2 linked regions of the Homo sapiens genome follow. The protein of the gene in region 2 interacts with the protein of the main gene of each other region in a biochemical or structural test. Each region holds a gene or a part of one and is shown on either strand. Other genes may lie near its edges.

Region 1 (3,463 bases), on a different chromosome or scaffold from region 2:
TAAATGGTTTTAGGAAAGGCATTTAGGTAAAGCACAATCCTCCGTTTTACACCTTACTTTACATATTTACCATCCCTGCCAAACCACTCATTTTGACATGGAGCATTTCTATTACAGAGGGTGTAGTTGCATCTCACTTTATTTAAATATTTTCCTCTTTAGCCTTTGAAAGCTCCCACATTAACTGTATCTTCTCCAGTGAGTTGTAGTTCTCACACAGAACCATTACCCTTCCAGTCACTAGTGTATTTAAGCTCAAGTGAGTAAGACTAGTAATGATTAAAATGAACCTCACAATAAATTTTTAGCAAGGTAAGTTTAAGTCCCATCAATATTTTCAATAAATACTGGAAAGATGCTAAAGGCAGCTTCCTGCTGTAGTGTTTCTTGATGTATGGATCTTTGCTTTATTAATTTGTTAAATGAGAGCTGATGAAACTATTTTCCCCCAAATAACAGTCATAGAAACATGTTACCTATTTGAAAGAACAATACCATTAGTTAGTTAAAAAATTTAATTGTAAGGATCAAGCAGTGGTTATTGGTGAAACCAATACACACTGACAGCTTTGAAGTGTTCAGATGCTAATTTTAAAATAAATGTGACAAATACCAATCAGATGTTCATAACACTTTTCAGGATCCACATCAACTTGATTATGGACATAGTTCAATACACAAGGGTAAGAGAAAGAGTGTGTAATCACCAATAATTAAACCAGAGGCATAATTTTTTCAAATAATTTTTAGTTACAGAATAAATTCTAACTTTTTAAAGTCTAAAGCTACATAAAACTCAAAGCAATCTATTTTTCTACCTGAGGTCAAAATGACTTTCCTTTTTCCTAACTAAACATAATTCTTAGCATTGAGGTAAATCTGAATTCATGTGGTATGCTTTGTCAAACTTTTCCAAAAAATTTTAAGCCCTGCTTTAGAGAGAAATTCTCATGTTACACATATATATTTACATATTTTTTCTTCAAAGACTAATGACAATGTATGATGTTAATAGGCCTGTAATGGAACCATGATACTACTAATAATATGAAATAAAAAGCCACTCATTTATATAAAGTGTTCCTGAATGGTGCAATAAGAAATGGGATCACAGATTTATGTACATATATGAATCACTAAGAGTTCAGAAATTAAGCTCACTTTAAGAAAACTCAGCCAGGCACAGTGGCTCACGCCTGTAATCCCAGTACTTTGGGAGGCCAAGGCGGGTGGATCACGACGTCAGGAGTCCAAGACCAGCTTGACATGGTGAAACCCTGTCTCTACTAAAAATACAAAAATTAGCCGAGCGTGGTGACACACGCCTGTAATCCCAGCTACTCAGGAGGCAAGGCAGGAGAATTGCTTGAACCAGGGAGGCGGAGGTTGCAGTGAGCCCAGATCGCGCTATTGCACTCCAGCCTGGACAAGAGAGCGAGACTCTGACTCCAAAAAAAAAAAAAAGAAAGAAAACTCATTCTATTTTTCTCTTTGGAGCAGAGGTTGCAAAACTGTGATGCCTAACAAAAACGTTGTGTATAAAAGCTCCAAAACCAAGCATTAGCCTAAATTGGCTATAACTGCAACTTAAATCAAAAACTATATCCAACTAGATCTTCGTTGTGGCTATGCAACTTTTTGCTTTGTGGCCTGAAGGTTTTTACTGAGGTAACAACCTCTTATCTCTTGTCCTTCCCTCAACCACAAAAGCAAAAATAAACAACAACAAAAAACACCTCTACAGCTTCCTTCTTCATGGCTGTCTTTGGCAATGCTTCCAAATCTTGAAAGCAAAAGAACCTGCTGAAGTATATGAGGAGGATGAAAACACTAAACATGACATATGAAAACCAATCTAAGCGTATGAATTGAGAAAGAAAATACTAGAAGGAAGGCAGAGCAGCAGTCGGCCCTCAACAGAAAACAAAAAAGAAGGAGGGCTGTAACTGCTCTGGCCCTTCTTCCATATTATCTCCCAATTAGAAGAGCGTGGAACCGAAAACTTAAACTCTGAAAAGGTAATAACTTTCAAGGAGGAGCTACGGAAGTGAATAAATGATAAAGAAGAACAGCAGTAGCTTTAGCTGTCAATGAGTTTCTTTGCTCTGGCATTGGCAATATCAATACGATCTCTGTTGGTGTCAGCCTGAAAAACAAGAAAGATATCAGCTTTACAAGGTAAGTAACTCTAATAAAAATTAAACTTTTTACACTTGGAGTAACTGACACACCAAGAAAATCCAAGAAACCACGTGAAGTTACATTACAAAACTCATGTTGGGCAAGAAGTAACAGAATATGAAATTCATTTGGAAAACCCCTGGTATATAAACATGACAAAGGTGTAACATATAAGACCTTGCCAATATTTCATAAATTCTATAACGCATTTTTTCATAGTTTAACATGCCTGAAACTGGGATGCATCCTGTAATCAATGGCATTTTTTGATGCAATGAAATATGAAAGAGTGCTCTTCTCTGTTAAAGATCTGGACCTTGTGTGAGTCCTCTGAACTGAATCATAGAATCTCATCTGGATTCAGACACCCTAAGTCTAACCTGGAGAGACTGAAATAACCTTTCCAAAGATCTTTGAAACGAATCTATTACCATCCTCACCAACATCTGAATTAAAATGACAGGTAAATATAGCCTAAACCCAGACTGCAGCATTTAAAGCATCTTGTGAACCACTGTTTCAATTAAATCCATCAAAAGTGATTTAACAGAGAGCCAAGCTTAAAAACTCACCCTAAAGTTCACTGAGATTTTAATGAGGTATGACTTTCTTTTTTTCCTTTCTTTTTGAGAAAGGGTCTCACTCTGTTGCCCAGGCTGGAATGCAATGGTGCAATCACAGCTCACTGCAGCCTTCAACTCCTACACTCAAGCAATCCTTCTGCCTCAGCCTCCCGAGTAACTGGGACAATAGGCACATGCCACCATGCCTGGTCAATTTTTAAATTTTTTTAGTAGAGTCGAGGTCTTGCTCTGGTCTCAAACTCCTGAGCTCAAGCAATCCTCCTGCCTCCGCCTCTCAAAGTGTTGAGATTACAGGTGTGAGCTACCACGGTTGGCCAAGGTATGACTTTACATGTGACACATCAAAACACTGAAAACAATTTCGCTTTCACTATATTTATATCATGTAAAGTTAAGGGGGAAAAAAAAGAATCACAACTTTCTTTCACTCACATGACTCTATTTCGTGTGTCCACTCCATAAGAACTATTCTGCAGAACAGATTTTCACCTACGGACTCTTTCATGAGATGAGGATTCAGGAACTTAATTTATTTTTAGTTAACAAAATAGGCTGATGTGGGAGGAACGCTTTAGCCTAGGAGGCAGGCTGCAGTGAGCTGTGATTGTACCACCACACTACCCTAGGCGACAGAGCAAGACCCCATTCTCAATTAAAAAATTAGTTAACAAAATAAAACTCATTTGGGAGAGAAAAAA
Region 2 (3,500 bases):
CACACAGACCCCCAGCCTCGCTTTGTAATGCCTGTGTGTTACTTTCCAGCCTATTTTCCTAAATGAGGTTCTAGTAAAATTACCCACCGACCCTTCTGGAGACGAGCCCATCTTCCACATCTCCCACATTGACCGCGTCTATACTCTCCGAGCAGAAAGCATAAATGAAAGGTGAGACCTGCCGCCTCCCCAGCATGGGCCCCAGGGCTCCACGGCTCTAGGACACACAAGGGGCGGGTGATTAATCAGGTGCCAATGTTTCCCAAGTGGCAATGCCATCACCCCTAGCTGGGAGTGGGGATGGGGCTATTACTTTTTTCTACAGCCTCTCAAAAATCTGTCACATGGCATGCCCTTTCCAAAATAACATGGATTCAAACTAATTTTGCTTGAGTTTTTTTTTTTTTTTTTTTTTTTAAGGCAGAGTCTCACTCTGTCACCCAGGCTGGAGTGCAGTAGTGCAGTCACAGCTCACTGCAGCCTTAACCTCCTGGGCTCAGGTAATCCTCCCACCCTAGCCTCCCAGGTATGTGGGACTACAGGCATGTGCTACCAAGCCTGGCTAATTCTTTATATTTTTTTGTAGAGATGGGTTCTTGCCATGTTGCCCAGGCTGGTCTTAAACTCCTGGGCTCAAGGGATCCACCCGCCTTGGCCTCCCAGAATGCCAGAATTCTGGGATTACAGGGGTGAGCCACTGCACCTGGCATTGTTGTTGTTGTTGTTGTTGTTTTATTAAGAAATGTTTCGCATTCTTTGAGGTAAACAGAGCATCTCAGGTTTCCCCTGGCTTCCCAGGTGGCAGAAACCAATAGGAAAGTAATTTCGGGGTTAATAGGACCACGCAAACCCAAACCTCTCCTCACCTTGGCTGACTTAAATGGGCATTCTGGAACCTAGGGCTGTGGGTATTTTGCTTCAATCTGTCTTCAAGACACTGCCCTGGAGCCAAATGAAATAGATCATTTTCTGAAGGGTGAACTTGACACAAGGCCAGCATCATTCCAAAGAGCATTTGCACCAAGCAAGAAAATTGGCTAAAGCTTTTGTGCATATGGTTCTCAGAAAAAATGAAGGAGAAAACCGCGGCCACAAATGCCTTCCCCCAAGGCGTTTTGGTCTTTCGTGTGAAGTGGTTCCCAATCTGGGAAGTGGTTTTTGTTCTTTCTTTGCGTGATTTCATAAGCGAGATCCTTCTGGCTTTGTTGGATTAGGCAAATATGTGCTGCTCTTCGGTAAGGAAGGAAGAGGAGTCGTGTCCCGATGTTGCCTCCAAGACAGCATCTATCACAGATTTTCTTCCCCGGGGACATCATCGCAGGTCTTGAGGACATCCATGGAAATGGCCCTCATGCCTTTCTTATCGATGGCAGGAATAAGTATTAGCGTCACGTGACATAAAATCAGATTTTCTTTCCCGAGCCTTTGTTGTTAAAATCAAATGAACAAAGAAACAGAGTCCTGGCAACAGTGTTTGAACAGACCTGAAGCCTTTTTCCTGAGTTTCTGTTTGGCAACTTTCTGTCTTTTTCTGTCCAAGGACTGCCTGGGTGCAGAAAATCAAAGCTGCTTCTGAACTCTACATAGAGACTGAGAAAAAGAAGCGCGAGAAAGCGTACCTGGGTAATGCATGGCCCCGCGGGGTGTCCTGCACAGCTGGGCAGGAGGGAGGGCCATTTGGCTGGGCTGAAAATCCTCAGAATAGAAGAATCCCCTGGACCTAGAGGAGGGGCATGGAATGAGATGGAAGTGAGCTTGGGGTGGGATGCAGATGGGGATGGAGGGCAAATTCCAGGAGCAAGGAAGCAAGTGTTTAAGGAGAGGGAAGAATTACTTTTGAGTCGGGAGAGGTACATGAAATGCATTGTGAGGCTCACAGAGATGGGAAAGGTGTGGCACGTTCAAATGAAGCATTTTGTGTTTTTCCTGCCGTCATAGTCCGTTCCCAAAGGGCAACAGGCATTGGAAGGTTGATGGTGAACGTGGTTGAAGGCATCGAGTTGAAACCCTGTCGGTCACATGGTAAGGCTGTGAGGCGCCCCCGGCTCCTGCTTTGGGGTTGGGAGTAGGGTCCGGGTTCCCCACACCCCCACCTGGCTCTAGATCAAATGTGCTATTTCCATACTCCCTGATCTCCTTCCAGAATTGGTTTAACTAGCACTTGTTAAAAACCTGGAGGTTTTGTGTTTTTTTTTCCATCCTTTCTACCATTCTGCTTCTCCGAGGGATCTGAGTGGCTGCATTCACAGTGGATGTGACACAAGATCAGGCCAAAGTAACGAGACAGGAAGGGCCTAGTTTCAAAGCCCACTCAATTAAGTATTTGTTTTTAGTTTAAGGATGAAGCTGACTTCTGGGAGTTTCCACCCGGATTCTCCACCGAATGACACTTATTAAGCATAGCAGTTATTAAGAGTGGGGAGCGGCCGGGCATGGTGGCTCACACCTGTAATCCCAGTGCTTTGGGAGGCCAAAGCAGGTGGATCACCTGAGGTCAGGAGTTTGAGACCAGCCTGGCCAACATGGTGAAAGCCCGTCTTTACTAAAAATATAAAAAATTAGCCAGGCATGGGGGCAGCCACCTGTAATACCAGCTATTCATTCAGGAGACTGAGGCAGGAGAATCACTTGAGCTCAGGAGGTGGAGGTTGCAATGAGCTGAGATCATACCACTGCACTGCAGCCTGGGCGACAGAGCAAGAATCCATCTAAAAAAAAAAAAAAAAAAGAGTGGAGATCAAAATGAGGTGTGAGTTCCACCTGGCGAAGGCTTTTGTTCCCTCCAGGAAAGAGCAACCCGTACTGTGAGGTGACCATGGGTTCCCAGTGCCACATCACCAAGACGATCCAGGACACTCTGAACCCCAAGTGGAATTCCAACTGCCAGTTCTTCATCCGAGACCTGGAGCAGGAAGTCCTCTGCATCACTGTGTTCGAGAGGGACCAGTTCTCACCAGATGGTGAGTGGAACGCGGCCCTGTGGTTATTCCTCCTTCCCTGGCACTCGTTTGCGTGGGTTAATGTTTTCTTACCTGGGGACTTGGTGCCAGGATTCCTTCGGTTTCCCTCCTGAGAGATGAGGCTGGCTGGCACAAGACGAGGCTCTGTCTCCCCTGGAGGAGTCTTCTGGAGGCGTCTCATTGCATGTGGACAGAGCATGCTTGGTCTAGAATTGTGCCAGCTGCCCTGGGCAAACACGTCCATCTTCTGCTTTCCAAAGCAGGTGACTGTGGAGAGGGGTGTGTTTAAGAGCCTCAGCATAGTTCTTCAGTCCTTGGCAAAAAGCTGTGCTGGCAATGGATGAAACTGGCCAATGGAACAAGGATGTTAGCCCACAACAGGAGCCGCAGAATGGGCCAGGTCCCTTTGGGTGGCATTTTTGTACCACTTATTAAGTAGGCAAAGGGATGCAGTCATGTTGAATGAATCATTTCTTCAGCCAGCCTTCTGTTTCTGCTTGGGCCTGGAAAAGAATAGTCTCAGCCCAATGATTCCAAGAA

Evidence for each region. The genes of interacting proteins can lie anywhere in the genome.
Region 1: the proteins of ITSN1 (region 2) and SNAP23 form a complex in vitro, tested with the Homo sapiens proteins (one study listed by BioGRID).

What each region holds. Positions count from the first base shown.
Region 1 is NC_000015.10:42,530,096-42,533,558, reverse strand, and holds the end of SNAP23 (synaptosomal-associated protein 23), read right to left. Parts: intron 2,147-3,463; coding exon 2,081-2,146; 3' UTR 501-2,080; downstream 1-500. UniProt on the Homo sapiens protein: Essential component of the high affinity receptor for the general membrane fusion machinery and an important regulator of transport vesicle docking and fusion.
Region 2 is NC_000021.9:33,883,501-33,887,000, forward strand, and holds part of ITSN1 (intersectin-1), read left to right. Parts: intron 1-49; coding exon 50-171; intron 172-1,540; coding exon 1,541-1,623; intron 1,624-1,938; coding exon 1,939-2,022; intron 2,023-2,786; coding exon 2,787-2,960; intron 2,961-3,500. UniProt on the Homo sapiens protein: Adapter protein that provides a link between the endocytic membrane traffic and the actin assembly machinery. Acts as a guanine nucleotide exchange factor (GEF) for CDC42, and thereby stimulates actin nucleation mediated by WASL and the ARP2/3 complex.